4 separate regions of the Homo sapiens genome follow, and regions 2, 3 and 4 are each linked to region 1. The links come from fine-mapping of genetic effects on gene expression. A gene starts in region 1. Each other region holds a variant in brackets. All regions are shown on one strand. Distances are between the middles of the regions.

The links.
Region 2: its variant is fine-mapped to the expression of KIF21A in skeletal muscle (GTEx, PIP above 0.99).
Region 3: its variant is fine-mapped to the expression of KIF21A in subcutaneous fat (GTEx, PIP 0.93).
Region 4: its variant is fine-mapped to the expression of KIF21A in whole blood (INTERVAL, PIP 0.91).

Annotation. Positions count from the first base shown.
Region 1 is chr12:39,440,018-39,448,127 of GRCh38, forward strand. It overlaps KIF21A (kinesin family member 21A), which reads right to left and starts at 3,103. Exons shown (of 38, transcript NM_001173464.2): 1 at 2,910-3,103. The coding sequence starts at 2,953. It overlaps LOC124902919 (a long non-coding RNA gene), which reads left to right and starts at 7,139. Exons shown (of 2, transcript XR_007063278.1): 1 at 7,139-7,485; 2 at 7,819-8,110. RefSeq lists enhancers at 2,044-2,113, 2,932-3,432, 3,714-3,773 and a silencer at 2,734-3,633.
Region 2 is chr12:39,542,453-39,550,562 of GRCh38, forward strand. It overlaps ABCD2 (ATP binding cassette subfamily D member 2), which reads right to left. Exons shown (of 10, transcript NM_005164.4): 10 at 7,581-8,110. It overlaps LOC124902918 (a long non-coding RNA gene), which reads left to right and starts at 3,814. Exons shown (of 2, transcript XR_007063277.1): 1 at 3,814-6,155; 2 at 6,543-7,530. The variant C/A (reference allele first, on the strand shown) is at 3,195.
Region 3 is chr12:39,565,681-39,573,790 of GRCh38, forward strand. ABCD2 (ATP binding cassette subfamily D member 2) reads right to left here. Exons shown (of 10, transcript NM_005164.4): 9 at 8,036-8,110. Among named protein-coding and RNA genes, the nearest start is that of ABCD2, 50 kb to the right of the region's middle. The variant A/G (reference allele first, on the strand shown) is at 4,524.
Region 4 is chr12:40,000,231-40,008,340 of GRCh38, forward strand. All of the region lies in intron 3 of SLC2A13 (solute carrier family 2 member 13), which reads right to left. Among named protein-coding and RNA genes, the nearest start is that of SLC2A13, 100 kb to the right of the region's middle. The variant T/G (reference allele first, on the strand shown) is at 3,717.

The DNA.
Region 1 (8,110 bases):
AGACACACGATTTTGTATTGATTTATTTATTCTGCTGAGGAACCCTTCTCAAACTGAAGGGTAGGGTAACAGGAAGCTGGAAAGATTAAATAATTTGAGGAAATATTTTAGTAAGTTCAGGTCCTGTCTTAGTTCTATCTTTTCTAGCAATATCAAAATATGAATAACCTGTGAAAGCCACTCATTTGTAAATGAACTAATACAAAATCAAGAACAGGCAACTGACCCAAAGCTAAGTGAAACTTTGCAAAGCCATGTTCTTGCCTCTCACTTCCGCAGGGTTAATGGTTAAGAACTTGGGCTACTGAGTCAAGCTATCTGGGTTGGAACCCTGGCTCTCTCATTTGTTACCAATTTAACTTTGGATGGTTTACTTAATCTTTCTGTGCCTCATCTGTAAATGGCCATAATAACAGGACCTAAGTCACAGATTGTTATGAGGAATAAATAAGACTTTACATGAGATAAAACATCTTAACACAGCACTAATCCCGGCACACAGTATAAGTCAAACAATTATCACTACTTTTAGCCCAGAAATCAGGATAACAGAGACGGGTATATATCTTCAATAAATAATGGTTATAAATGAACAATATAAGTCCAAACACTTTATAAATACTAAAGTGCTATATGAGTATAAGCTATTTTTATCCTATATAAAGTAAGTTTACAAGGTAGCTCTGTTCAGAGAACAATGTATTTAATGAAAGAAATCCCCGATTTATCCAGGCGCAGTGGCTAATGCCTGTAATCCCAGCAATTTGGGAGGGACGGCTTGAGCCCAGGAGTACAAGACCACTCTGGGAAACATAGGGAGGCCCCATATCTACAAAAATGTATAAAAATTAGCCAAGCAGTGTGGCACATGCCTGTGATCTCAGCTACTCAGCAGGCTGAGATTAGAGGATTGCTTGAGCCCATGAGGTTGAGGCTGCAGTGAGCTATGATGGCACCACGACACTCTAGCCTGGGTGACACAGCAAAACCCTATCTCAAAAAAAAGAAAGAAGAAAGGAAAGAAGAGAGAAAGAGAAAGGAAAGAAGGAAGGAAGGAAGGAATCCTGAATTCAACAAATTGAATCTTTACAATATGGCTTACTAAGTTATGTTGAAGTTTTTATAAAGCCTTTCCCCAAAAATCAAACCCACATTCATTCACCTAAAAAGTCCTAACATACACACCAAAACAAAATACAAGTTATTTATCAGTCAGCATCACTTTAGGGTCATCCATGGCTCTACAGGCAAAGAAGCATCGGATTTAACAGAATGGTCAACAAACTGCCTTGTGATAGTCTAGAGAATTCACATATAAAAATCTCAAACGTCTAAAAACAGACAAATTGTCTGTTTTCAGTAATATTTTATGCACCTTCTTCACTTTCCTTGATCAGATCTCCTAACAAAATTGCCTCTTATTGGGTTTTCTGTCTTTTTCCTTCCCCTTTCTCCACCCTGGTGCAGTCATTAACTGGTATTAAAGGGCCAAAAGAGAGGTAGTAGCAGTGAATAGGAGAAACAGACTAATCTAACAATTGGATAAGTAGCCCTAGAATAACGAAGAAGGCCTAATTAAAACTTCAAAAGCCTTATAACAGGTGATTCTAACCAGTCATAAAACTGTCACCTCCCTGGGTGGTAAAAAAAAAAAAAAAAAAAACACTTAAAAACTCATTTTATTATTTAAGTTAATTAAAGATACAAAGTATACGAAACAGCCATTACTATGCCTGACCCAAGATGTGTCACTAAAATAGTAACTATAGAAATGTTTAGAGGGGAGAATTTTTAGAATAATTTTCTGGAAAGACTACAAGACTGGGAGATTGTTAATAGTTCCTAATTCCTTGGAGTGTAGATTATTTTTATAATCCTTAAAGCATAAATAAGGAGAAGTGAATTAACAGTAGACTCTCAGAGCTGTGAAAGCCACGCACTTACTCTAGGATGAATGCTTCATTAATTTTTCACACAGTGTGATGATGTTGCAATTTTCCATGAGCAACTATCAGAGCTTTCCTTCTTGATAAGTATCAAAACAGCCGAAATTACATCGAATACTCGTGCCTGTCATTGGCCGAAATATAATTTCAATACTAGGATGTACCTAGTATTTCCAGACTCACACCCTGGCCTGGGTAACGTTACGATTACATTGTATCCACCCTGCCTAATGTCAGTATGTTTCACACAGTCACCCATTTCACCCTTCCTCTGGCTAAAGAGTTTTCCTCCTTCTGTAGACCTCTCCCCAGTGGATTTTACCTTAAATTCCACTCCCATTCCAACACCCAAGAGGCTAGATCTGTCTCCTCTACCCACACGCGGGGGCATGTCTAGATCCCCGTGATGCTGAAAAAGATGTCTCATTTGCACAGACATCAGAACCCGAGTGGGCGCGCGGCGGGCCCTGCGGTCGCCGGCGCTGATAGTCAGATGCTTTGTCTCCTGCCTGGGAAGGCCGGAGCTGCATGGACACGTATGACAGACATTCTAGAACTAATAAAAAAGAACACCACAGCCCCGCGCACAGGCAGCTCCTCCCGGACAGGCGATAGCCCAAGGCGGCCAGACCTGAGGTGACTGATCCCGCGAGGGGACGGAGGGGAGTGACGAGGGCTTTTCCCCCAGAGAAGTCAAGACGCCCCCCAGGGACCCGGCGCCGCGCAGCCGCCAGCCACCTGCAAACACAGACGGCGTGAGGGCGGCGCAGTCGCCCTGCCAGCACCCGGCCGCGCGTGCCAGGCCAGCGGGGACTCACTGCCTCAGTTTCCTCAGCCGCAGAACCCGGCCGGGACGCCCCTCAGGTCGCTCCACCCCGGTAGCCGGTGCTCCGCGCCACAGCCAGGTCCTTGCCGCGCCCTCAACCCGCCGCCCGCCGCCCGCCGCCGGCAGACTGTCCTCACCTGACAGCCACCCGCACGGAGCTCTCGTCCGGGGCGCCCAACATGCTGGCGGCGGGCAGCGATCGAGCCGTTGGGCCTCGGCACCGCAGAGCTGAGGCGCCACTGGGGCCGCGGGACTCGGGCGCAGTAGGCTGGGGCGTCTGCGGGCGGGCGGCCGGCTCACCTCCGCCGCGCTCCAGCCATGTTGGGCGACTGAATGGAAAGGTGGCGGCGGCGCTGAGGCAGCAAGAGGAGGAGGTGATTCACGGCTCGCGGGCGCCCGCCCCTTCTCCACCGCTCACCCCCCAGGATCTGGGGCGGGGACAAAGCGCGCTTGAACGGCGAGCGCGCCTGTGGAGAAGCCAACAGGCCGCCAGCGGCCTCAGGGCGGCCGGGTGAGTGCGCCCTGCCCCCTCCGGTGGGGACGCGGCCTCCCAGCGGCCAGGCTGGGGACTCCACGCCCGCCAGGGCGCTCCGGGCTCCTCGCCCCGCACTGCGTCAGCCGCCGCCGCGCGGCTCAGCCCCACCTCGCCCTCCCCCAGCCTGCGCCCCGCCCTGCCCTCGTCGGGACACTGCCTGGCGCTGCTGGGCAGGGAGGCGAGGGGGAGGGATGCCTGCCGCCGGCTGCCCTCGCCCGAGGGCGACCAGCCTGTGCGCCCTTCCAGGCTCTTCTGGGAGAAGGAAGCAGCTAGTGCACGCGCTGCTGCCAGGTCCCTTCTCAAATCGAAGCTTGATTCAGCGGCGCGCCGGGAGCCAGGCAGCTGCTGCTGCGGTTCGGCTTTGTGTCCCACGCATAGCCTTATTGTCCTCTCTGCAGCTTGGACTTTGACCCCCTTCCCTAGCCCCCAGCTGAACGCCCTCCCTCCTCCCTCCCCGGAGTCAGTCATTCATGCTAAACGGACTCCCAGGTTTGTCCACTGTCTCTGGACAGCTGGGCTGTTCTACAGTTCATCGCCCGTTTACCAGCTCGGGTGGGATATGGAAATGATTTATTCGAGACTCCTGAATGCTTTTCTGTTCAATCATTTGTACACTGGTAAATGAACTGCACCCTGGTACTGCCAAGTGTTCCCAGAACTGAATATATCCACCAAGACCTGCTGTGTAGTAAATCCTTCCAAACTGATTTTCTTTCCCTTCTGGCCTTTAAAAAGCACCTCCCAATCCCAGGATTCTCTCAACATTGACCCATTGTGGTTTCTGTTTGTCACTATTGTGCTTCCACATGCCTTCAGATAGCTCTGTGGAAACAGCCTTTATTAGCTTTGCCACAGAGTATCTTTTGTGGACTGCTCCATACATCTCTATAAACAAACATGTGGCTTCATACGAAATAGTATCACAAATTAAATGGCACTATCCAAATAAAGGCACTACCTCAAATGCCTGCAATCTACAATCACATACCTAATCATCTTGTTCAGCAGTGATACAGCAGTGTGGCTCAGAGAAGGCTGCAACACTATGGGAAAAACAAGAAGTGTTTGATGATTTAAACCCATGGGAAGGCCGATGGGGTATATAATTATAGATAGTTTTAAATTTATTCTGTCCCTTAATCTCACTACCCCTAAATCTTAACAGACATGTAACTGGGAGGTAAAGAGGGCAGAGATGCTGAGTATCCTTCTATAGATCAAATTGGTGGGAAAGCTCTCCTCTGGCTACTCTTTGGAGGGCCTTTCCTAGCCTCAAAATTTATCCATCAACAAATCAGAGCTGCATTTCACCCTGCCCTGGCAAGCCCATATCTGGGTGGATCTGGGCTGGCCACCTTGCTTCTTTTGTTGATGAAAGCTGCAAGGAAAGCAAGAATGGCCCAGCACATTTAACAAGAAAACTAAAGAGAAATTTGTATAATTAAGACCCTCTTTTTAAAAAAAGTTCTTTTTTATTTTATTTTATTTTGAGACAAAGTCTTGCTCTGTCACCAGGCTGGAGTGCAGTGGCGTGATCTCGGCTCACTGTAACCTCTGCCTCCCGGGTTCAAGCGATTCTTCTGCCTCAGCCTCCTGAGTAGCTGGGACTACAGGCGTGTGCCACCATGCCCAGCTAATTTTTGTATTTTTAGTAGAGACAGAGTTTCACCGTATTGGCCAGGCTGGTCTTGAACTCCTGACCTTGTGATCCACCCGCCTCGGCCTCCCAAAGTGCTGGGATTACAGGCATGAGCCACCACACCCAGCCTATTTTATTTTTTGAGACAGTGTCTCGCTCTGTCATCCAGGCTGGAATGCAATGGTGTGATCTCAGCTCACTGCGACATCGACATCCTCCTCCGGGGTTCAAGGGATTCTCGTGCCTCAGCCTCCGGAGTAGCTGGGATTTCAGGCATGTGCCAACACATCCAGGTAATTTTTGTATTTTTAGTAGAGATGGGATTTCACCATGTTTACCAGGCTGGTCTCAAACTCCTGACCTCAAGTGATCCGCCCACCTCAGCCTCCCAAAGTGCTGGGATTACAGGCATGAGCTACCTCACCTGGCCAAAAAAAGTTCTCATTTTAAATAACAATAGTATACATATATGTCTCAGTAAGGGGAGTCACAAACACAAATGCCTACAGGAGCCAGGCAGGTAGCTCAAAAGAGCAGAGCAAGATGAATACTATGATAAAGGTGAGGACTATCATAAAATAGAGACACAGGCCCCTTCCAAAGGTGGTGGCCATCCTCAGCTCTGGCTGAATATTGCCTTGATGAAATGCAAATCCAATGCTGCCAAGATTTTTATTTCTTGTATGTATGTTGCTTCTCAAGAAAAAGAGAAAAACAGATCTTTATGAAAAAACTCCTTAGTTTTAAACACCAACGACTAATTCAGCACAATATTTACATATGCTGCAAACCAGACAAAATATGTCTCAGGCCAACTTTAGTCCCAAGACACCAGGCTGGAACTTCTGGACAAAATATTAGCACCAATAACAGCTGTGGCTTTGGGTTCATATTGCACATGGTTTCAGGAAGAGGCAGTGTAGAAATTCAAATTCTCATTAATGACCTAGTCAGTAATTTTTCCCCAAATTTCTAAAGTTGTAAAATTAACATACTATTTTGTATTTAGTTCCAATTCATTTACAGCTGCTATAACACCTTTCCTTATGACTCCTCTTTTTTTTTTTTTTTTCTGAGATGGAGTCTCGCTCTGGAGTCTCGCTCTGGAGTCTCACTCTTTCGCCCAGGCTGGAGTGCAGTGGCACCAACTCGGCTCACTGAAAGCTCTGCCTCCTGGGTTCACGCCATTCTCCTGCCTCAGCCTCCCGAGTAGCTGGGACTACAGGCACCTGCTACCACGCCTGGCTTAACTTTTTGTATTTTTAGTAGAGACGGGGTTTCACCATGTTGGCCAGGATGGTCTCGATCTCTTGACCTCGTGATCCACCCGCCTCGGCCTCCCAAAGTGCTGGGATTACAGGCGTGAGTGACCGCGCCTGGCCATGACTCCTCTAAATAATCTTAATTTCTTAATTTCAAGAAAGTTCCAAGGGAAGAGCTTTTACTGCAAGAGTGGTTTAAGTCTTATTCCAATCATTGACTCAATAAATATTTTAAGTGATTATATGCAAACAAAGTGAGGGACAACAGTGATTTAGAGAAGAATAAGACAATGTCAGTGCTTACAAGGAGTTTACTGTCTAGCACAGGAAGATATGTTTGAAAATACTAAATGGAATAACAGAAATTACGAGAGAAATACGATGAATTTTACCTGGACGGGTAAGGAATTCTTCAGATATAAACTGCACAGGATGGTCTCCCTGAGTCCACTCTTGCCTTCATATTGCAGGAATAATGTTTTTGTTGGTTTTTTTTTTTTTCTTGAGACAGAGTCTCACTGTTGCCCAGGCTGAAATACAGTGGGGCAATCTTGGCTCACTGCAACCTCTGCCTCCTGGGTTCAAATGATTCTCCTGCGTCCAAATGATTCTCCTGCGTCAGCCTCCTGAGTAGCTGAGATTACAGGCACCCACCACCATGCCTGGCTAATTTTTGTATTTTTAGTAGAGACGAGGTTTCGCCATGTTGGTCAGGCTGGTCTCGAACTCCTGACCTCAGGTGATCCGCCTGCCTTGGCCTCTCAAAGTGCTGTGATTACAGGTGTGAGACACTGTGCCTGGCCAGAATAATGTCCTTTTAAACATAAGTCATTTATGTCATTTCTCTGCCTGAAACCTTCCAATGGCTACTAACACAAATAGAATAAATTATTCTACACTTTAAGACCTTCACACACTGTCCCTGCCCCAACTCTGACCTCACCTTTTGCCACTCTATACCTTAACAACTACTTTTTGGTGAGACTGGTTTTCTTTCTATTTCTGGAACTCATAAAGTTCTTTCCTGCCTGAGGGTCTTTGCACTAGCTATACCCTCTCCCTGGAATGTTCTTTCCCCAGACCTTCCCATCGTTGGCTTTTTTTTTTTTAATTTCTAGGTTATCAGTTTAAATGCTGTCTTCTCAAAGAGGCCTCTCTTGATCACCCAGTCTAAAATAGCACCCCCACAAAGACCAGCTACCTGATTTGCACAACCCGGTACAAAATGAAGATGTGAGGGATCTTGTAAGAAAAGGAAGATAAAAATGATATGAAAGGTACGAAAATAGAAAGTTTTTCCCCTTCCTTTAAGCTCTCTTGTGTCACGGTGTTTTTTATTTGCTATTTAATGTCATTCTCCAGAAAGAAAAGTTAAAGTTTTAGATATTTCCATGACTTTCTCCATTCATCTTTATAGTGTACAATGCTGGTTTTAAGTATCAACAGAAGAGCATTTAACTCTTACATGGGATTATAAAAATTATACAACTTATTTCATAATTCATACATGCATTTTATTCTTAACAGTAGAAACACTGCACAAAACTAACTCAACTGTTTTTATTTCATACACACATATGCTAATAACATTTCCTACCTTTGACTTACAGATTAATAAGGAAGAACTGAAAAGAAAGGAAACTACTCTGTCCCGTCTTTACCTTTCCTTTTACTGACATGGTTTGGCTCTGTGTGCCCACCCAAATCTCACCTTGTTTGTGATAATCCCCATGCATCAAAGGACAGGACCAGGTGGAGATAGTTGAATTGCAGGGGCAGTTTCCACCATGCTGTTCTGATAGTGAGTGAGTTCTCATGAGATCTGATGGTTCTGTAAGGGGCTTATCCCTTCACTTGGCACTCATTCTCTCTCTTGCTACCCTGTGATGAGGTGCCTTCCAC
Region 2 (8,110 bases), 100 kb after region 1:
CTCCATCTCAAAAAAAAAAAAAAAGGAATAAATTGGTAGAGTTAATGAATGGATGTAGAGAGATTAGTTAGAAAGCAATGGCAGTAGTCCAGGTCAGAGAAAACAGTTATTCTTGAACCTTGCTAATAATGGTGAAGATGGAGAGAAGAGGACTTATTCAAGGGCTGTTATTTAGGGGTCACAATGAATAGGATTTGATGGTGAATTGGCTGTGGAGTATGAAGAGCAAGAAGATGTCATGGATGAGTTCTAGGGGTGACTGAATTAGGTAGGCAAATAGGCAATGCTATGTTTATGAAAAGGGACAAAGTATAGAATGAATGAGGATAAGGGTCAGTTTTTACGTTTGGTGGCAGAAATGTAAAGGGTCAGCCAATGATCAGCTGTGAGAAAAGAAGGGAGGGGAGGACTGGGCTTGTTCAGAGAGCAGGAAAAGTTTGAGACCAGTTGTACAGAGTGGAACAGTGAGAGAACTAAAGAAATACAGGAGGATTGCTGAATGGTGCTGACAAATCTTTTGAAGTTGATCATCATGAATTTATAGTGAATATTTTACCTCGAAGAGTGACTTGCTCCAGCAGCACTCAGCTGCTCTTTTCCACATATGAAGAGAACCAGTGATTAGGATCACACATGATTGGAATTTTGCCAGATGGGTATGATCAGTATAGTTTTTGACTTATCATATTAAGTCAAAATATCAATAAAGATTGTGATAAAATCCAATTTTTCATCCCATTATAAGGACAGAGAATTTTCAATATTCACCTGCCCAGAGTTTCCTGAGAACATGGAAATTCATCTGAGAAGATGAGAGAGAGATGAGGGAAGCCAGCGTGACATTTGGACCCTTGGTCATAGGTCATAGGTCTCCAGAATTACTCCTCTCCTCTCTAAGTATAATTTCTGTTGCCGCTGCAGTCATATATTACCATCTCTCTTTCATTTCCTTATCTTTCTATTTATTATTCTTTTTTTCCAAGTCCCTTGCTCTCTTATGTCCTTTTCCTTTGTGGGGATTGTATGAAAGATATAAGCATGATGTGGACACATTAAAATTGTGTAGGAACACCAGCAAATTTGGGACTGGAGAAACGGAATTGAGAAGAACTTAGTGTTTCAGCTTTTGTTTCAGCTTTTTGGACACATTATTTTACATACAATCCAGGCTTTAGTAACCAGTAGGATCTGTTGCAAAGAGAGAAAGTCCATACAATTTCAGCAACATGCCATCTGACGTTTGGAACCTTAGCCCAATTGCAAAGAAAGCAATTTTATTATTGGCATGTGCCTATTTCCTTTTCCCTTTTTTCTGTTAATACTTTATTTATGGATTCATTCAGTCATTCTGTTACTTATTCCACAAACATATATTAAGTAACTACTATGCATCAGACACTGAGCACTAGTTCAGTATCCTCTATCAGCTCACACTTGGGGTCTTTTAACTCAAAAGGACTACCTCTCCCACAAAATTATACGTCCTTCTCTAATGATATAACCACCCAAGGAGCTCACCTTGCCCACTGCCTAGACAGAGCCAATTCATCAAGACAGGGAAATTGCAATAGAGAAAGAGTAATTCATGCAGAGCCAGCTGTGTGGGAGACTGGAGTTTTATTATTACTCACATCAGTCTCCCAGAGCATTCAGGGAGCAGAGTTTTTAAGGATAACTTGGTGGGTGGGGGGAAGCCAGTGAGCCAGAAGTGCTGATTGGTCAGGGATAAAATCATAGAGTCGAAGCTATCTTCTTGTGCTGAGTCAGTTCCTGGGTGGGGGCCACGAGATCAGATGAGCCAGTTTATTGATCTGGGTGATGCCAGCTGATCCATCAAGTGCAGGGTCTGCAAAATATCTCAAGCACTGATCTCAGGAGCAGTTTAGGGAGGGTAGGAATCTTGTAGCCTCCAGCTACATGACTCGTAAACCATAATTTCTAATCTTGTGGCTAATGTTCATCCTACAAAGACAATCTAGTCCCCAGGCAAGAAGGAGGTCTGCTTTGGGAAAGGGCTGTTACTGTCTTTGTGTAAAGTGTAAACTATAAACTAAGTTTATCCCAAAGTTATTTCAGCCTACACCCAGGAATGAACAAGGACAGCTTGGAGGTTAGAAGCAAGATGGAGTCAGCTAAGTTAGATCTCTTTCACTGTCTCCGTCATAATTTTGCAAAGGTGGTTTCAATCCCTCCCTTTAGGTTTTATAACACCTTAATCTTAAGGTGTAGATTATGAAGATAGGAAAAGGCTGTGGATCGCTCTGGCTTCTTCCTGCTGACAGGAGACATAGTGGGAATGGGAGTGAACCCCAGGGTGAGAAGAGTGGAACTGCTTTGCAACTGTCTGAGTGTACTCATGCAGGCCTGGTTGAGCTTCCAAGGCTTGCATGGCAGAAACATTAGTACTCTTATCTACAGTTTTACTACAGTGTTTAAGTGAACAGCCTACTGTAAGGTAAATAACGAGTCCTAGGATGAGTAGTACAATTTCCAATTTTAAAAGCAAAGATTTGAAAGCATTAGTTTGGGGACTTCTAATCCACAAAGAATTTAGAATTTAGCTTAAACTGCAGAAAAACACCTCAAAAACAGCTAACAACAGTGTACTATAGTTTTTCTTTTGAAGCATAATTTTTGTCTCTCTAGTCCCCATTTTTATTAAAAACAAATCATGGTAGAACTAATTTGTTTACAAAATAAACTTTAGTCTTCCTGTACTTGGCCTGATTATTTGCATGAAGTGCAGCAAGAGTAATTATTTTTCACTTAGACTAACAAAGCCTAAAAATAAAGCCTTCAAAAATTTGGCTTAGATAGGACTCTGTTCCATGAGGAATCTCAGGTAAGATTTTTTTTTGAGATGAAGTCTCGCTCTTATCACCCATGCTGGAGTGCAATGGCATAATCTTGGCTCACTGTAAATTCCGCCTCCCGGGTTCAAGCGATTCTCCCGCCTCACAACATGCAATGAAGTAAGTGCCATTATTATCTCCATTTTAAAAATGAGAAACCTGAGGCATGAAGAGGTTATATAACATTCTCAGCAGGGAGATAACAGAGGCAGGACCCCACCAAGCAGTCTTTCTCCAAAGCTAGTGTACCTAATCATCACTCAAGCCGATACCTAAGGCTGGTGGTGAGAAGAGGTGCTGTATTTCTAACAGGCTCTATTATTGGTGAAAATTTGCTTTCTG[C/A]TGTGAATTGACCTTTTCATTGTTGTGATCAGGTCTTGTGGCCATTAGGGTAAGGTTGTTCTGTTGGCATTGAGTTTTTTTTATACAAACACAAAAAGAAAGTAAAAAGACTCTAATTTGAGGAAAGACCTCTTTATGGTCATTGGCTTGATAATAGTAAGAGTATAGGATCTATGAATTCCTGGACCTGTCCACCTGACTTGAGGGATGTTGAGAGCTACCCAAAGAAGCAGAAAGAGGAAGGATATACAGTTTGGGGACTCAAAGAGAGAGGAAAACATGGAGCTAGATAGTCCATTTATATAGTTATTGTAATATCTACTTTCTATTGAATCAAGGAATTAGAAGAAATGTTTGTAAAACTTTTATTATCACCATCCTGTTGGGAAGATTTAAACCAGTGAGTTAATTCTTAATTTATTCTGGAGAGGAGGAAAGAAAGTAGATGAAATAAATATTATGAAATTCCCAAGATGCCTAATTTTTCTGTTCAGCAGAAAAGAAAAAACTGCACATTATAATTTTACCTAATAATGTGGGTTTAATACACAAGAATATGAAGGAGTGAGTGCACTTTTTAATATTCTTCTCCTACAGTAATTTTATTCATTCTCAGAAATTAACCTTTATTTTTTCATTCACATTTTTTATTTTTTGCTCCATTTGTATTCATTTGTTCACTCATGCATTTAGGCACCTATTGAATAAATACTTTTCAAGTGTTCCCTATCTGCCATGTATTGTTCTAGGTGCCATGAATACTAACTAAATAAGACAAGCAAGATTCCTACCCCACAGAGCTTATAGTCTAAGAAGGGTGGAGGTTATATGAAGTTAGATTCAATTGTCATATAAATAAATAAGATAAATGGAGATAATAATAAGTTACATGAACAATAAAACTGGGTAATGTGTTGAAGAAGGACTGGTTGGGGGAGTATTTTAGATTGAATAGTCTGAGATTATGTGACAAATAAATAGTGATTGGTTGAATGAATGAATGAGTGGTTAGGGAAGATACATGATAAAAGGTAGCATATGATAAATGTAATGGTAAGATTTGAAATAAAGTCCTCTATAGTCATAATAAAGGAAAATATACAACTGAAAAAAAATTTTAAATGTCCTTGAAGCTAGATAGGGTTTTGATAGATGAAGATGGTAGGGTAAGGGCATTGTTGGCTGAGAAAATAAAATGAGTAAGAGGAAAAGCAAAAGGGAACACCCACTGTGTCCAGTCAAGGGAATGAAGAACAGAGGAATGGAGGAAGGATAAGGGGAAACAGCTATTTGGAAGCAGAGAAAACAAATTGAGGCCAGATCATGGTGGGCCTTAAATACCATGAAACAAGTTTTAATTAAAAAATTTTTTTTTCAGGCTAAGGCTTGAAAAGACATTTGTCTAAAGATGATATACAAATGACCAACAACATATGAAAGGATGCTCAATATCACTAATCATGAGAGAAATGCAAATCAAAACTACAGTGAGATATCACATCATACTCATTAGATTGACTCCTATACAGAAAGTAGAAAATAACAAGTGCTGGTAAGGATGTGGAGAAATTGGAGCCCTTGTGCACTGTTAGTAGGACTGTAAAATAGTGCAGCAGCTAGGAAAAACAGGATGGAGATTCTACACACACACAAATAAAAACTCAGCAATTCACTTCTAGGTATATATCCAAAAGAACTGAAAACATGGTCTCAAAGAGATAATCGTACAACCATATTCACACAGCACTATTCACAATAGCCAAGAGGCTGAAGCAACCCAAGTAAATGATTAGGCAAAATATGGTATATACATGTACAGGACTGTTATTCAGCTTTAAAAAGGAAGGAAGTTCTATCACATGCTACAACATGGGGGAATCTTGTGGACATTATGCTAAATGAAATAAGCCAGTCACAAAAAAGCAAATACTGTATAATTCCACTTATATAATGTATCCAAAGTTGTCAAATTCATAGAAACAAAGTAGACTGGTGGTTAGTTGGAACTAGGGGTTGGAGAAAAAGGAGAGTTTAATGGACATAGAGTTTCAGATCTGCCAGATAAAGTTCTGAACATCTGCTTCATAACAATATGAATATAGTTAACATTACTGAACTGTACACATAAAAATGTTAAAGATGGTAAATTTTATGTTATGTGTTTTTTACCAAAATAAAAAAGAATTCAGTAACTTAAGTCCTCAAAATATTTATGCTGCTTTGTAATAAACTTCTAAGGGGTTGTGTGTGTATATGTGTATGTGCATGTGCATGTGTGTATGTGTGTCAGGTTGTAAAATATATGTATAGAAGGTCCCTGCCTTATGAGAGTTTGACCTACGATTTTTCAACTTTGCCATTGTGTGGAAGTGATATGCATCCAGTAGAAACTGTACTTCCAGTTTCCAATTTTGAACTTTGATCTTTTCCTGGGCTAGAGATATGCAGTATGATACTCTCTTGCACTGCTAGGCAGCATCAGTGAGCCTCAGTTCCCAGTCAGCCACTGATCAGAAGGGTAAACAACTAATACTCTACAGTGCACTATGATGCTAGATGATTTTGCCCACCTGTAGGCTAATGTAATGCAACCGAGCACATTTAAGGTAGGCGAGACTAAACTATGATGTTTGGCAGGTTAGGTATATTAAATGTACTTTTGATTCATGATATTTTCAACTTACTATGTGTTTATCAAAATGTAACCCCCTCTTAGGTCAAGGAGCATCTGTAGCTGCTTGGATCTACATTAACCTCATTTATCTATACCCTACCTATGTGAGTCTTGGAAACTTGTCTCATATAAACAATGAGCTAGCCTAAAAAAGGGGACTTTGACAATTGCTTCATCGGTCTTTGTCACTCTGGAAATATCAGCATCTGCATGTTGAAAAAGGTCTCATTATATTAGCTTTCCATAAGCTGTCACCTGATTATAAGACCTCTTTTGCACCTTCCCAGGTGAGTCATCAGAAAATTCTTTAGTTTTATACATTTGTAGGTCCAATGCATTTTAATTAAATTTAATATATTTAATATATACAAATTAAATATACTTCATATATAAGGTTACCCCTTATTTATATGGATTAAACTGACTAAAATTAAATGATATAGCCAAGTTAATATTATTTCATGTTTATCAGTATTTCATTGCTTCATTGCTACATAATCTGTTTTTAGGTATAATATTAAATCACATAAAAACTCATAAGTGAATACTTAATCTTTTTGTTTCTATATTGGGTCACAAGTACTGAGACAAATTATGTAACTTTAAATATTATTAACTTTGGAATCCTTGTTTATAACACAACTATAATTGTTTATTTTTCTTTTGCTTTTTAGAACTTTCCTGCTATGTTTATCTGAGTTTTGTGGTAACATACGAGACTTACCTTTGAATGTATAAAACTGGCTAGTTTTACATGATCTGAACTTGAGAAGCGGTTTCTTAGGTTTCAAGACAACATGCTAAATACATAGGACCATCTACTGGCAAAGGATGATATAGTCCTAAGGACTGGTTTTGTTGGAACTTGTAATAGCCCAAGTTAAAGATCATGAAGATTGTGAAGCCCAAAAGTGTATTATTGAGGGAATCCTGCTGCCAGAATATGCTTATCACTTAAATTGCAACAGAGTGGTCTTAGATAGAAAATACAAGAGCTGAGAAGATACTACAAAACAAGTAAGTCATTTATATGGAGTCACAACATCTAACTGGCATACATTTGTTTAATATTGATATAGTAAAATATTTCATGAGGGCTCTGACAAGGACTGTCTTGTTAATCTCTGAATCCCTAGCATAGCAACTGGTACATGGAAGTGTCAACAAGTATTTACTGAATCAGTGAATGAATAATGACAACCAGGGCCTCAAAACTTTTGAAAATTTGCCTTATATTCTCCCTCTCCCATAGGACCACACCCATAATTTAAAATAAAAAAAATACAAAGTGTAACATAAGTTCCCTTTTTAGATGAAAAGTGCATCTATCTGTTTGGTTAACCAGAAACCTTGAGTCAGTAAAAATTATACTTAATATTTACGTTAAAAATAGTAATAATGAAAAATGACCTAAACTAATTAAAAGAAGGTTATGTGGACTTGCATAGGCTTTATAATCAAATATTGCTCATGTCAAATTTCAGCTCTATAGTTTGGGTATTGTATGAGGTTGGATTAATTACTTAACCTTTCTCTCCTCATTTTCCTCTTTTATTAAATTAGCATTTTGTTTATACCCTACAAAGATTTGGTGAAGTCTGTAAATGCAATGATTTGTGCCTACTTGGTAAGTACTAATAATAAATCCAGCTGTTGACTTTTTGTCTGACTGAGGGCATTCATTTTCCTAATTTTCAATGGTCACAAGCATCTTCGGACAGGGACCAAATTTTATTTAGTAATAGAACTTAGCACAGTGCCTGGCATAGGTAGATACTTATTAAATGTGTTGTATTAATAAAGAAAATTAATATTTAAATAACTATTTGGTGACTATTGTCTATAGTTCTACACACGGTTATATACAATACAATGTCTAAGTAAGGCGTATATAGACATATACCCAACATGGCCATTTGCAGTATAGAAACAGGGTATTTTGTAAAAATGGAATAATTTGTAATTCCTTTGATTAATCTAGTCTTTTTCTTAATGGTTAAGGAATTCATAAGGAATGATGAGTTCAAGTAAATACACATCAGATGGAAATTATATTATAATGTACTCACACACAGCCACAATTTCATTTAGCTACATAATGATTTTTACCTTTAAGGACATTTTTCTCATTCATTTTCATTAATACAATTCTGGCTTATAAATAGACCATTGGTTTTGAAAATTTCACAATATGAAATGTAAACCAGCCCTGAACTTGGTAGTCAGGAAAAGCATCAACAAT
Region 3 (8,110 bases), 130 kb after region 1:
GAGAGAGGGCATCCCTGTCTTGTGCCAGTTTTCAAAGGGAATGCTCCCAGTTTTTGCTCATTCAGTATGATATTGGCTGTGGGTTTGTCATAGATAGCTCTAATTATTTTGATATGCATCCCATCAATACCTAATTTATTGAGAGTTTTTAGCATGAAGGGTTGTTGAATTTTGTTAGAGGCCTTTTCTGCATCTATTGAGATAATCTTATGGTTTTTGTCATTGGTTCTGTTTACATGCTGGATTACATTTATTGATTTGCATATGTTGAACCAGCCTTGCATCCCAGGGATGAAGCCCACTTGATCATGGTGGATAAGCTTTTTGATGTGCTGCTGGATTTAGTTTGCCAGTGTTTTATTGAGGATTTTTGCATCAATGTTCATCTGGGATATTGGTCTAAAATTCTCTTTTTTTGTTGTGTCTCTGCCCGGCTTTGGTATCAGGATGATGCTGGCCTCATAAAATGAGTTAGGGAGGATTCGCTCTTTTTCTATTTATTGGAATAGTTTCAGAAAGAATGGTACCAGTTCCTCCTTGTACCTCTGGTAGAATTCGGCTGTGAATCCGTCTGGTCCTGGAGTTTTTTTGGTTGGTAAGCTATTAATTATTGCCTCAATTTCAGAGCCTGTTATTGGTTTATTCAGAGATTGAAATTCTTCCTGGTTTAGTCTTGGGAGGTTGTTTGTGTCGAGGAATTTATCCATTTCTTCTAGATTTTCTAGTTTGTTTGCATAGAAGTGTTTATAGTGTTTGCTGATGGTAGTTTGTATTTCTGTGGGATCAGTGGTGATATTCCCTTTATCATTTTTTATTGCATCTATTTGATTCTTCTCTCTTTTCTTCTCTATTAGTCTTGCTAGCGGTCTATCGATTTTGTTGATCTTTTCAAAAAACCAGCTCCTGGATTCATTGATTTTTTTGAAAGGTTTTTTGTGTCTCTATTTCCTTCAGTTCTGCTCTGATCTTAGTTATTTCTTGCCTTCTGCTAGCTTTTGAATGTGTTTGCTCTTGCTCCTCTATTTCTTTTAATTGTGATGTTAGGGTGTCAATTTTAGATCTTTCCTGCTTTCTGTTGTGGGCATTTAGTGCTATAAATTTCCCTCTACACACTGCTTTGAATGTGTCCCAGAAATTCTGGTACGTTGTGTCTTTGTTCTCATTGGTTTCAAAGAATATCTTTATTTCTGCCTTCATTTTGTTATGTACCCAGTAGTCACTCAGGAGCAGGTTGTTCAGTTTCCATGTAGTTTAGCGGTTTTGAGTGAGTTTCTTAATCCTGAGTTCTAATTTGATTGCACTGTGGTCTGAGAGACAGTTTGTTATAATTTCTGTTCTTTTACGTTTGATGAGGAGTGCTTTACTTCCAACTATGTGGTCAATTTTGGAATAGGTGTGGTGTGGTGCTTAGAAGAATGTATATTGTGTTGATTTGGTGTGGAGAGTTCTGTAGATGTCTATTAGGTCTGCTTGGTGCAGAGCTGAGTTCAATTCCTGGATATGCTTGTTAACTTTCTGTCTCATTGATCTGTCTAATGTCGACAGTGGGGTGTTAAACTCTCCCAATATTATTGTGCAGGAGTCTAAGTCTCTTTCTAGGTCTCTGAGGACTTGCTTTATGCATCTGGGTGCTTCTGTATTGGGTGCATATATATTTAGGATAGTTAGCTCTTCTTGTTGAATTGATCCCTTTACCATTATGTAATGGCCTTCTTTGTCTCTTTTGATCTTTGTTGGTTTAAAGTCTCTTTTATTAGAGACTAGGATTGCAACCCCTGCATTTTTTGTTTTCCATTTGCTTGGTAGATCTTCCTCTATCCCTTTATTTTGAGCCTATGTGTGTCTCTGAACATGAGATGGGTCTGGGGAATACAGCACACTGATGAGTCTTGACTCTTTATCCAATTTGCCAATTTGTGTCTTTTAATTGGAGCATTTAGCCCATTTACATTTAAGGTTAATATTGTGTGAATTTGATCCTGTCATTATGATGTTAGCTGATTATTTTGCTCATTAGTTGATGCAATTTCTTCCTAGTCTGCATGGTCTTTACAATTAGGCATCCTTTTGCAGTGGCTGGTACCGGTTGTTCCTTTCCATGTTTAGTGCTTCCTTCAGGAGCTCTTTTAGGGCAGGCCTAGTGGTGACAAAATCTCTCAGCATTTGCTTGTCTGTAAAGGATTTGATTTCTCCTTCACTTATGAAGCTTAGTTTGGCTGGATATGAAATTCTGGGTTGAAAATTCTTTTCTTTAAGAATGTTGAATATTGGCCCCCACTCTCTTCTGGCTTGTAGAGTTTCTGCTGATAGATCAGCTGTTAGTCTGATGGGCTTCCCTTTGTGGGTAACCCCACCTTTCTCTCTGGCTGCCCTTAACATTTTTTCCTTCATTTCAACTTTGGTGAATCTGACAATTATGTGTCTTGGAGTTGCTCTTCTTGAGGAGTATCTTTGTGGCATTCTCTGTATTTCGTGAATTTGAATGTTGGCCTGCCTTGCTAGATTGGGGAAGTTCTCCTGGATAATATCCTGCAGAGTGTTTTCCAACTTGATTCCATTCTCCCCGTCACTTTCAGGTACACCAATCAGATGTAGATTTGGTCTTTTCACATAGTCCCATATTTCTTGGAGGCTTTGTTCATTTCTGTTTATTCCTTTTTCTCTAAACTTCTCTTCTCACTTCATTTCATTCATTTGATCTTCCATCACTGATACCCTTTCTTCCAGTTGATTGAATCGGCTACTGAGGCTTGTGCATTCACCATGTTCATTCTCGTGCCATGGTTTTCAGCTCCCTCAGGTCCTTTAAGGACTTCTCTGCATTGGTTTTTCTAGCTAGCCATTCGTCTAATTTTTTTTCAAGGTTTTTAACTTGTTTTCCATGGGTTCGAACTCCCTCCTTTAGCTCGGAGTAGTTTGATCATCTGAAGCCTTCTTCTCTGAACTCGTCAAAGTCATTTTCCATCCAGCTTTGTTCCGTTGCTGGTGAGGAGCTGCGTTCCTTTGGAGGAGGAGAGGTGCTCTGATTTTTAGAGTTTCCAGTTTTTCTGCTCTGTTTTTTCCCCATCTTTCTGGTTTTATCTATCTTTGGTCTTTGATGATGGTGATTTACAGATGGGGTTTTGGTGTTCATGTCCTTTCTGTTTGTTAGTTTTCCTGCTAACAGTCAGGACCCTCAACTGCAGGTCTGTTGGAGTTTGCTAGAGGTCCACTCCAGACCCTGTTTGTCTGGGTATCAGCTGTGGAGGCTGCAGAACAGCAAATATTCCTGAACAGCCAATGTTGCTGCCTGTTCATTCCTCTGGAATTTTTTTCTCAGAGGAGTACCCAGCTGTGTGTGGTGTAAGTCTGCCCCTACTTGGGGGTGCATCCCAGTTAGGCTACTTGGGTGTCAGGGACCCACTTGAGGAGGCAGTCTGTCCGTTCTCAGATCTCCAGCTGTGTGCTGTGAGAACCACTGCTCTCTTCAAAGTTGTCAGACAGGGACATTTAAGTCTGCAGAGTATTCTGCTGCCTTTTGTTTGTCTATGCCCTACCCCCAGAGGTTGAGTCTACAGATCCAAGCAGGCCTCCTTGAGCTGTGGTGGGCTCCACCCAGTTGGAGCTTCCCTGCCGCTTTGTTTACCTACTGAAGCCTTGGCAATGGCGGGCACCCCTCCCCAGCCTTGCTGCCGTCTTGCAGTTTGATCTCAGACTGCTGTGCTAGCAATGAGCAAGGCTCCGTGGGCATAGTACCCTCCGAGCCAGGCACGGGATATAATATCCTGGTGTGCCGTTTGCTAGGACTGTTGGAAAAGCGCAGTATTAGGGTGGGAGTGACCCGATTTTCCAGGTGCCGTCTGTCAACCCTTACTTTGAGTAGGAAAGGGAATTCCCTGACCCCTTGTGCATCCTGGGTGAGGCGATGCCTCGCCCTGCTTCGCCTCACGCTCGGTGGTCTGCACCCACTGTCCTGCACCCGCTTTCTGACACTCCCCAGTGAGATGAACCCGGTACCTCAGTTGGAAATGCAAAAAACACCTGTCTTCTGCATCGCTGATGCTGGGAGTTGTAGACTGGAGCTGTTCCTATTCAGCCCTCTTGGCTCCACTCCCCCAGATAACATGTTCTTATCCTTCATTTTGTTAATGTTATGTACCACATTTATATATAGAAAGTACTAAAGACTCCATCAGAAAACATTAGATTTATAAATGAATTCAGGAAAGTTGCAAGATACAAAATCAGTATGTAAAAATCAGTAGCATTTCTCTACACTGACAGCAAATTATGTGAAAAAAATCAAGGAAACAATCCCATTTTCAATAGCTAGAAAAAGTTAAACACTTAGGCATAAATATAAGCAAGGAGGTGTAAGGTCTCTACAATGAAACTATAAAACATTAATGTAAGGAATCGAAGAAGACACACATACACAAATAAAATGATATCTCATGTTTATGAATTGGAAGAATTAATATTGTTAAAATGTCAATACTACCCGAAGTGATCTACATATTCAATTCAATCCCTATGGAAATGCC[A/G]ATGATAGTCTTCAGAGAAATAGAAAAAAAATTCTAAAATTTGTGTGCAACTGCAAAACACCCAAAATAGTGAAAAAATTCTTGAGCATAAAGTACAAAGCTGGAGCCATCACACTACCTGGTGTCAAAATATACTACCAAACTGTAGCAACCCAAACAGCATTGTACTGACACAAAAACAGACACACAGACTTAAGGAATAGAATAGAGAACCCAGAAATAAATCCTTGTATTTATAGTCAACTGATTTTCAACAAAGTTGCCAAGAACACACTATTGGGAAAGGGCAGTATCCTCAATAAATTGTGGGAAACTGTATATCCACAGGTAGAAGAATGAAATTTGACCCTTATTGCTCACCATATGCAAAAACAAACTCAAAATGGATTAAAGACTTCAATGCAAGACCTGAAATTATTAGAATACATAGGGCAAAAATTTCATGACAATGAAATTTGGATATAAATTTGAAATGACAATGAAATTTGGGCAACGAGTTTTGGATATGACCTCAAGAGCATAGGCAACAAAAGTAAAAATAGACAAATGGGATTACATCAAACTCAAAAGCTTCTGTGCAACAAAGAAAACAATCAACAGAATGAAGAGATACCTATCAAATTGGAGAAAATATTTGGAAACTATATATCTGATAACAGCCAACATATATAAGAAATTCAAACAACTAAATAGCAAGAAAATGAATAACCTGATTACAAAATGGACAGAAGATCTGAATGAACATTTCTCAAAAGAAGATACACACAAATGACAAACAGGCATATCAAAAAATGCTCAACAACACTAATCATTAGGTAAATTCAAATCACCTCACTCTTGTCAGAATGGCTATTAAGAAAATGACAGAAAGTGTTGGTGAGGATGTGGAAAAAAGGGAACTCTTACACACCTTTGGTGGGAATATAAATTAGTATAGCCATCATGGAAAACAGTAAGGAGGTTCCTCAAAATGTTAAAAATAGAACTACAAAATGATCCAGCAATCCCCCACTGGGAATATATGCAAAGGAAATGATCTCAGTATGTCAAAGAGATAACTGCACTCCCATGTTTATTTCAGCACTATTTTTACAGCCAACATATGGAATCAACCCTAGTGTCCATCAATGGATGAAAAGATAAAGAATGTTATATATATACATGATGGAATACTACTCCACTGTAAAAAAGAATAAAATCCCGCCACTTACAAAAACATGGAAGAACCTGGAGGACATTATAGTAAGTGAAATAAGCTAGACACAGAAAGACAAATACCACATGATCTCACTCATACATGGTCATTCATATATTGGGCAAACACCACCTTCGATGTATAATGATGGTTTGGCTCATCACTCTGGTCTTACAACATTATTTGATTTCTACATGGGAGGAACCAACTGTGTAGGCGTTTCATACCCTGAGATTCAAACGCATGTTCTATATTACAAGCTGAGATAATATTTCAGGGTTTATCTATTTTAACTGAAACTCATTTGAGATAATCTTTAAACTTCCTTCACAAATAGGAAAAAGCTTAGGAAAGTGATGGTTATACAGCTATAATTCTATCCAGGAATCAGAAATTTTAATAAGCTTCTATAAATTTTTACTTCTTCAGACTCTAGTATTGATTTTAATCTTTACAATCAACAATTACTCATTTGTTGTTATGGGAAAAATATGACACATCTTTCCCCACTTCTGAAATCTATTCAGGGAAAATGAAATTTTTATTTTCCCTGAGAGAAAGAATAATCAGAAATGACAACCTGAAATGGCAAAGCTAAATAAAAAAATCAGAACTAACATGTTGTTTTGTTTTGTGGAGAAATGTACTTGGGTAGCTGCAATTAAAAATGTGTTTCTTGTCAAAAGGCATAGCCTTACAGATTTTGTTATTTACTTAAAAAGAATATTTGTTCCCTCAATTGAGGAAACAATGGCTATATATGCTTTCAATGCCTCCTAAGGCTACTTGAGTAAGGAATTGAATGGCAGGATAGCATAATAAATCCATTAACACAGGTCAGAAAAACTCCAAGCCTAATATGTCCCAACATGTGATTAATTTGGGAGAAAGTCTGGAAATCAAGGTTCATACCAAAAAGGGCTCAAGAGTACTGGCCTAGCTCTGTGTTGTCCTTGATTCAGAGGATTTACAGGCAAATGTCATTATTGTCTTAAAGATCTAGGTCCTGTTGGTCTTCTTCAGGATAAAAGTCAGAGGAAGCATATTCATTGGCATGGATCCTAACTCATGCTGGACTAGATCCAGAAAGTATATTTTTTAAAAATTCTGAAAAATCTGAAGGTTTAAACTGAGTGTGAAAATAGATTATCTTTTCAATATAAATGAAACTCAGAGTCAAAGAATTTTGAACAATAAAAGCCTGATTGGATGAATACTGTTTGCTAACAATTTTAATGTAAACATTCTTTATAAGGTCAAAGGTCTAGAAGGGCTTCAAGGATTAATTCCAATAATGCTTGCTACTAGGCTAGATTTGAAGCCATGTACATCATGACAACTTTGGCATGAAATCTGATCAGCCACCTGCCACAGAATGCTGCAGCCAGAAAGAGAGAGAGGAGGAATCCTGTGCAGTCCTTTAGAAAACAGGAGGCCAAAGCATATATAGAGACAGTTATAGTTACTAAGAAGTCAAAAGAAAAAATTTTCATTGATTAAATAGAAATGCAAAAGTAGAGAATGTAGTATTTATGGTTAATGCATGAGATACACTTTGAGTTCCTTATAATGAGAGCCGTGTGCTGTAGTACAGAGTATGTGATCATGGAAGTATCTCACTTTTCTAGTTCTCAGTTTCTTCATCTGTAAAATAGGAAGATTAGATTTCCTAAATTCCACAGGGTTGTTGTGAGGCTTAAATAAGATGTACCTGGAACAGAATAAGTGCTCAACTATTATGATGATGATGAATCAATGGAAAAGTAGGGGAATTGTAAAATTAGCATCTTTATTTGAAGGGGAAATTCTATATGGTTTTATGAGATATTAGTTCTAAAAAAATTTAGCTCATTTTTCTTTAAACCAACTAAAAATAAGCCCTCCCCCCTTCCCCACCACCACCTGTGTTTTCTCCACTTAATCCTTTGGGGGAGTATCAAGTTGTGTGTACATATATTTTTTTCCCCAGATTTTACTTTCCTGGGTTTTAGAGAAAGGACTAAAAGAATGATGTACAAATATATAAATATATTTTTCCCAGTACATGTTACTGGGTAATGATAAATATTTTCCATTAAAATAAATCACTGGATTTTTCCATGTCTTTTAAGAATTACTGGAAACTGATGATAATTCAAATAATACACTAATGATATTAGGTAGGGAGTATCTAAGCTACTAATGTGCAACTTAAGAGAAATATGGGTAGAAAATAAGTGAAATACCCTACCCTCTACTGTGAAAAATTTAGCAAAGTTATTTTTTGAGAAATTTAAGGAAAAACCATCTACCACAAATTAGCACTAGAAACACTTACCAAAGAGAAGGTCTGTGTGTTATAGACAGTAAGGAAATTCCAGCCCCTTTTGCAGCCTGAAATATCTTTCCTTCG
Region 4 (8,110 bases), 560 kb after region 1:
GCCCAATCTCAGGTATGTCTTTATCAGCAGCATGAAAATGGACTAATAAACCATTAGCTCTACATTAAAAAACAACAACAACAGCAACAAAACCCAAAAACTTACAGGCTGTAACAGGCTATATAATCTGTGAACCTCTACCCTCTACTAAATTTAAACTGAAACTCAATTTACATTAAGGTCATCAGGTCTTTTAAGGTGCTTTTCACAGTCCTAATGACCGACACATACACCTGGTAGTGCCAAGCACCTGGGATCTCCATGTAATGGTTTGCCAGGGCTGCTATAGCAAAGTACCACAGACTGGGTGGCTTAAACAGAAATTTGCTTTCTCACAGTTCTAGAGGCTCAAAGTCCAAGATCATGGCATTGGCAGGTTTGGTTTTTCTGGAGGCCTCTCTCTCCTTGGCTTGCAGATAGCCACCTTCCCGCAGTATCCCGACATGTTCTTTCCTCTGTGTGTGCAAATCCCTGGTGCCTCTTCCTCTTCTTATAAGAATCGCAGTTATAGTGATTAGCGTTTACTCATATGACCTCATTTAACCTTAATCATCTCTAAAGGCTCTATCTCCAAATGTAGTCACATTATAAGGAACTGGGGGTTAGGACTTCAACATATGAATTTGTAGGGGACACAATTTATTACATGAAGCCCCACTCACTACTTAATCCCAGTGGAACAGTAAACACTAAAAAAGGCTAGCTGGCCGGCCAATGAGTGCCACACACAGGCTGCAATGCATTCCCCAATGTCCAAAAGCTCCAGGTCCTCACCAAGAGGAGAAATGATAAGAGAGGGCATGGACACTCAGGAGAAATTATTTTAGCATATGTAAACATCAACATGACCAAGCAAACAGGAGTCTCCTGACTCACACACTCAATGGATAAGCACTGGTATGTTTAGCTGTTTTCAGAAAGTTTCCTCAACTCTATCTGCTGATGTTAGCATTCACTCAAAGTGGGCCTTAACGACAACAAAAAACTGCATTGCCAAAATCCAAACTGGCAGCACATACTGGAGAGGGGAACACAAATAACAAGCCACCCTGTAATTTGTAAATTTTCTTTCAAAGTGAGCTATAAAAAAGACATTAAAGACACTTCTTGAATATTTCTGATATTGATTTGGAATAAAAAGTCAGGTGAATGGATGTATTTTCACTGTCTTAGCCTACATGCTGTTATCTTTTCTAAAAATTGCCTTACACCAAAAATAATATCTTTAATTTCCACAGTCTTCACCATTCTTAAATATTTTTTCATTTCACTCTCCCAATGACTCTGTGAGGTAGACAAGGCAGGAAAAGATAAAGAAAATGAAACTTGGTAGTTAAATGACTTGCCCAAGGTCACAGACTAAGAACTGAGGGAATCAGAATGAGAATGCAAGTCTTCTGACATCTAAGTCAGCACTCTTTATTCTTGGGACTTAATGACATTCAAGGCACTGAAACTATGATCTTGCAAAATTCACTTCACTTAGCACCACTGGGATGTAAAAGTCTATAAATAAAATTAAATGTGCATAATCACAAAGTGAATTTGTTCTGAATAAAAATAATTCTATTTCTTCAATAAATATGACATTTCTAAGTTATCAATCATCCCAATGAAAATTTTAGAAGCAGCATTTTCGTTGATAATTTATTTCACTAGGATAAATAACTGGGTAAACATAATAAAGTTTCAAAGCAAGAAAATCAATTTCCATAATTAATAATACAGAGCAAAATTTAACCTAGCAAATAGATGATTTTATTAAGTAGGTGATCTTACTGGTCTACCGCACACATTTTCACTAGGCTGTAAACATTTCTCCAACTAACAACTGAAATTAAGGAAAACAAATGAATCATTGGATGACTTTAAATAATCAGGTTTAAGAAAAACATGCTTATTGAAAACCAACTATCTAAACGTCAACTACAATAAAAAATTGTTGTATTGGGCACTTATTATGCGCCAGCCTAAGAACTTTGTGTGCACTGCCTCACTCAGTCCTCATAATTATCCTATAGTGGGTACTTTTTCATACTCATTTTACAAATGAAGAGACAATAGTGAAGTTAAGTAATGTATCCAACAACAACATTTAAAAAGTGGCAAAGTCCCAATTCACACCCAGCTCTGTTTGACTCCAAAGTCTGTATTACACATCTCTCTAATGCCTTGATCCCAAATACAAAGAATAATGAATGAATTGCCTATCACAACTGAAAACAGACTGAAAGATGGGCTCAGAAAGCAACAAAATAAATAAAATCTGTAAGCAATATGCACTATTAAACATGAAATGAATGAATGAGGTCATGGAATTTCCTCTAAAAGTCTTTTAAAAAGGAACAAATGATCTTCAATTCAAATTCTTTCATGCAGCAAAACTACTCAGCACATGTCATGAGCTAGGAACTCTCTTAGGTCCTTGAGACTCTGAGAATAATATGACACAATCCATCCCCGTGAAGGGTTCAAAGTCCACTGAGGAAGGTAAAGACACAGAGGAAGTTTTAAAAGGCATTAATATGGATGATGGCATAGGCTAAGGTTACAAAAATGCCTAGCATGTATGGGGCTCTGATTTCTAGGGTATGGCTGAGTATAGTGTATATTCCCCTAAAAAAAAAAAATGGGAGAAGGAACTTCATAAAGCTGCTTTTCACTCTCCTTGACAGCCAGTGACATAATGATATTTTGTTAGCCAAAAAAAGCAAACTAGGGGTTAATAATTTACATCCATGATTTGTACACTGGAAAGGAGCCCTCACGCTAGGCGTATTGGTCACTGGCTCAGTGCCCTGCTCTGTGCTCCACAACCACCCTCTCCCCTGGTGAATAATAATGCCATCATAATGGACTGGGACAGGGAGAGATGTTTGGGAACCACTCCTGTAAATATGGACATTTATACAGTTCACCCAACACAACTATGTAAATTAAAACAGTTATATAATCAGGAATAAAGTTAATTTTTTAAAAAGCAATACCTATTGAGAAGGAGTTTATGAATTATGCTAGCCTCAACTTCCACTTCAAAAAGAATAGTATATGAATTACCCTATTTAACAACTAGAATCTTAAATTTCAATGCATATCATTTTTAATGCAGTGCTAGCTTATTAAAATTATAACGATTATCTCCAAGGACCAAGGAAGAGGAGAGACAAAAACAACACTTAACCAAAAAGTGAGTGGGCGCTGATGGCAATAACAAAACTCAACCGTCAGAGGTGCCCCATAGACAAATATTTTTAAATGTTCTTGAATCTATAAATCTAAGCCTTGGATATGCTATATCGTGGGGTAGCTAAATCTGTTGGTTCCCTATCAACGTGTATTACTGAAGGGACTAATGACATGCCAGGCCCCTAATATGCCTTAACCCCTGTTCTATAAAAAAGCAAGTCATCTCCAAGGAGAAGAAACACTCAAGAGGTATCATCGTGGGTTTTTTTTTTCAATACATTTAGAAATGTATTGAATTTTTAATTTATTACAAAGTACCAGACATTTTTTCTCATTCTCTCATATAATACCACACACAAAAATTCTACAAAATGGGAGTATTATTCCCTTTCTGTAGATGAGGACACCGAAGCACAGAAAGTTTAAATTAGCTGGGCGTGGTGACGGGCGCCGGTAATCTCAGCTACTTGGGAGGCTGAGGAAGGAGAATCGCTAGAACCCAGGAGGCAGAGGTTGCAGTGAGCCGAGAG[T/G]GCGCCATTGCACTCCAGCCTGGGCAATGAGAGCAAAACTCCATCTCAAAAACAAAACAAAACAAAAAATTCCTCCCAAAAAACACAAAAAATAAAAATACAAAATACAAATTTAAAAAAAGATAGTATAACAACTATTTGCATAACATTTACACTGTATTCGGTTTTATAAGTAATCCAGAGATTATTTCAAGTATATGGGAAGATGTACATAGGTTATATGCAAATACTATACAATTTTATTTTATTTTATTTGAGATGGAGTTTCACTCTTGTTGCCCAGGCTGGAGTGCAATGGTGCAATCTCAGCTCACTGCAACCTCCATGTCCTGGCTTCAAGCAATTCCCCTGCCTCAACCTCCCAAGTAGCTGCGATTACAGGAATGTGCCACCATGCCTGGATAATTTTGTATTTTTAGTAGAGACAGGATTTCACCATGTTAGACAGGCTGGTCTCAAACTCCTGACCTCAGGTGATCCACCCACCTCAGCCTCCCAAAGTGCTGGTGTTACAGGCATGAGCCACCATACCCGGCCACTGTACCATTTTATATCAGAGACTTGAGCAATCACAGATTTTGGTATCTGAGGCGTATCCTGGAATCAAGCCCCCATGGATACCAAAAAATGACTGTAGCACAGACTGGGCAATGAGTAAAGGACAGATTTTTTTTTTTTTTTCACAGTTCTAGAGGCTAAAATGTCGAAGATCATGTTACTAGCCTCTGGTTTTCAAGATGGCACCTTAAACACTTTTGGCTCCCCAAAAGCTTAACTACGAATAGCCCACTGTTAACTGGGAGCCTTATCAATAACACAAACAGTTGATTAATATATATTTTTAAGTCATATGTACTATATACTGTATTCTTACAATAAAGTAAGCTAGAAAAAAGAAAAAGTTTTTAAGAAAATCATAAGAGAGAAAAATATATTTTCTATTCAATGAGTAGAAGAGGGATTATCGTACAGGTCTTTATCCTTATTGTCTTCACACTGAGTAGGATGAGGAAGAGGAGGCAGAGGAGGGGTTGGTCTTGCTGTGTCAGAGGTGGCGGGGGAAGAAAATCCACCTGTAAGTTCAAACCCATGTTGTTGGAGGGTCATCGGTACTGCCTAACCCTACCTTATCTGTAATCACTTACCAGCACTGCTGACAAAGACACATTTTTGCTAGAAACAAATTAGCAAGAGAAATTAGGGGTGAAAACATTAAACTTTTGAGATTTTTCAAAATTATTGAAGAGTTAAAGAAAAAGGGGCCTGTAGCTACAGTATGAAGAGACCTCTAAACTAATCTGTGTACTTTATACTTCACAGAATAGAGGAAGGGAAGAATGAAGTTCATTTGAAGTGTCCCCAGGTGAGCCACAACAAATCCCTCATCCAGAGGTACAACTACCCTTTAGTATTAGTGCAGGCATCTGGAGGCTCCTAGTAATGCTTAATGATAGCTTACAAAGGGTATGTGGGTGTGTATCTGGTGGGTAGTGGAGTATGGTGATCACTTAAACTAAAAGGAAGTTTAAGAGACCAACTCAGAAAGTAAGATCCTAAATCAGTGGTTCTCAAAGAGTGATACCTAAATCTGAAGTGGTTCTCAAAGGGCAGTCCAAAAAAGCAGCACTGGCATCACCTGAAACTTGCTAGAAATGCAAATTCTTAGGCCTCCCGTTAGACCTACTGATTCAGGGTTCTGTGCATGAAGCCCAGTAATCTATGTTTTAATAGGGTCTCTTGCCACTGATTCAGATGCATGCTAATTAGGAACCACTGCTCTAAAATCCACTAAGTGGCAGTGTGCCACCAAAAGGCTATACGATTTTATATCAGAGACTTGAGCAATCACAGATTTTGGTATCTGAGGGGTATCCTGGAATCAAGCCCCCGTGGATACCAAAGGCTATTTTAAGTCCGTGGTTCTCAACCTTGGCTGCATATGTGTATAATTAAGAAGCTTCCAACGTAAGGCCCTACCTCAGAGAATCTGATTTCACAGTTTTTGCTTCTTCCAATGATCAGCCAAGGTTGAGAATCACATTTCTAGATGATTTAATAATTTCAATCAAACAGGGTTAAAATTTGAAAAAGAAAAACAGTACATGAATGTTTTAAGTCTAAACATACTCAACTTCCCACCATATGAGTATAAATTAATAACCCCATACAGTCAGCTAATACTTAGGCAAAATACAAAATTGAAATTAATAACGCAGGATTAAAATGAAACCTAAATGTTTACAGGAGCTCACTGGGAAAACATAAGAATACAATATTATTTTTTTCCAAAAAGAAATTTTGAAATGTATAAGCTGTAACAGAGTGGCAAGAATACTTGACTTTGTATCTCAGGTATATCTGGGCAAGAGATTTGCCTCTGTCTTCTATCAGCTGTAACATTTTGGTTAATTTTATTTTTCTTTCCTTAGCCTCCACTTCTCCTCCAGAAAACAGTCAATAATATGAATCTCTATCAAAGAGATGTGGTAAGGATTAAACAAAACAAAGCATGTAAAGCATTTGCCACCATAACTGGCACATAGTTTATGTTCATTAAATGTAAGCTTATTAGTAAGAAAATTATGTTAAAATGAAAATATAGTAACAAAATAATGAATAAATTCTAAGAGTCAGGTAAAATTTCTTTCTAATAGTCTAAGCAAAGAAAAAGAGGTATTAAGACAATAACAGTAGTAAAGATTTAGGTGAAGGTCTCCATATCAGAAGTGCAGGAAGCAAGTACAGTTAGATATAAACATTGTACTCACTTCCCTTATCCTCCTATCAATGGAAGCAATCCCACCTGTTCACTCAAGTCTCTCTGGAGAAAAAGTGGTTTACAAGAATAAACCCATGTCTACAGTGTCGGCTAGACAGATCTCAAATACACATAACAAATTCATACTCTCTGCTGCCAAGATCATATTTTTAATTCCTTCATAAATTTAATCATTAATAATATAAAGAAATTCCCATTTGAGTATTTGTAATGCTAGCAGATGCACACTTACTTCTGATTCTTCCAGTTTCCAGCAATGGGTCACTAATCAGTTTATTTATTTATAAAGAAGATGAGCCACATCTTTTAATTAGCTAACAGTCATGTGTGTTCAACTTTCGTTTCTTTCTTTCTTACTAAAGTTGACCCAGTATAAGAATTTCTTGAAACTAATGAGCCCCTCCCACCTTTGCTCTGTGGCTGAGAGAAGTGCCCAATGTGAAGTGGGCACATAGATGCTGCGAGAAGGGAACTCATTCATAATTTTCTATTAGAAACAGTGATGGAATTGCAGAAACTTTTGTTTCCTTATACATTAGGTTATTTGTCATATTTTCTATAAAAAACTTGCATTACTTTTAAAGATTCAAAATTTTAAGCACACGGTCTAGTAAGTATATGAAAGAAGAATCAGTAAATAGTTCAAGAATAGTATAAATATTCTAAAACTTCATAAGTTCTTTTTTGCTATCCAAAAAAAAGCCACACAAAATTAATTGACTGTCCACCAAACTATTTTATTTACAATTGCTGCTGAAAACAACTTTAAAACTTTTTTTTAAAAAAAGGTCATTACTATTTTAAAATTAAGCATAATCCCAGAACTAGACTCACATAGTTTTTAAATGATGATGGAAAAGGGTATCCTTATATAGTACATTGAAGAGTGTATACTGTTCTAATAAGATAAGCTTTGTTTTGAATTCTTAGTTCTTCTATTTCCTAACAGGGTAAACTTGGGCAAGATTGTTAACTTCTCTATCAATTTTTACAACTATAAAATGATAATAGTTCACATTTTAGTTATTTGGCTTGCTGTAAGAATTAAAAGAAAAAAATATGGCACAATACCTCACACATAGAAGCCATTAAATATGAGTGGTAGCATAATTATTCAAAGGAAGAAACACTATTCAAAGAAGGAAGATATCGTTTACCAGCCTTAAAGATTCCATACATGGAAAAACGCCTTATCTATATTACTTTTATAATATACAATGGGTTTTACGGGAAAACCCAGATTTAAAATATAAGCACTTTCTACTTCTGAGGTAGAGTCTGAGGTAATTAAACAGCATCAAAAGATTCAACTAGTTTAAACCAACATATGTATAATTCTGAACTAATCAGCATCTCAAAACATTTAAGGATTTTTTTTAAAAAACCTATCCAGATTTTTTAAAATTTTAGACTAAATATAGTAACACACCTGCTAAAATGATTCCTTATAACAACATTCTCTTATCTGAAATTCTGTTAATAAAAGTAGAACAGAGAAGCCAAAAAGATTTTACTAAGGCATAAAAAGCAGCAGGGTGGTGGTGATGACAGGAAGCTCCAGGGTCAAGATACCAAATGTTAAGAGTATGGAGAAACAATTGGCTGGGCACAGTGG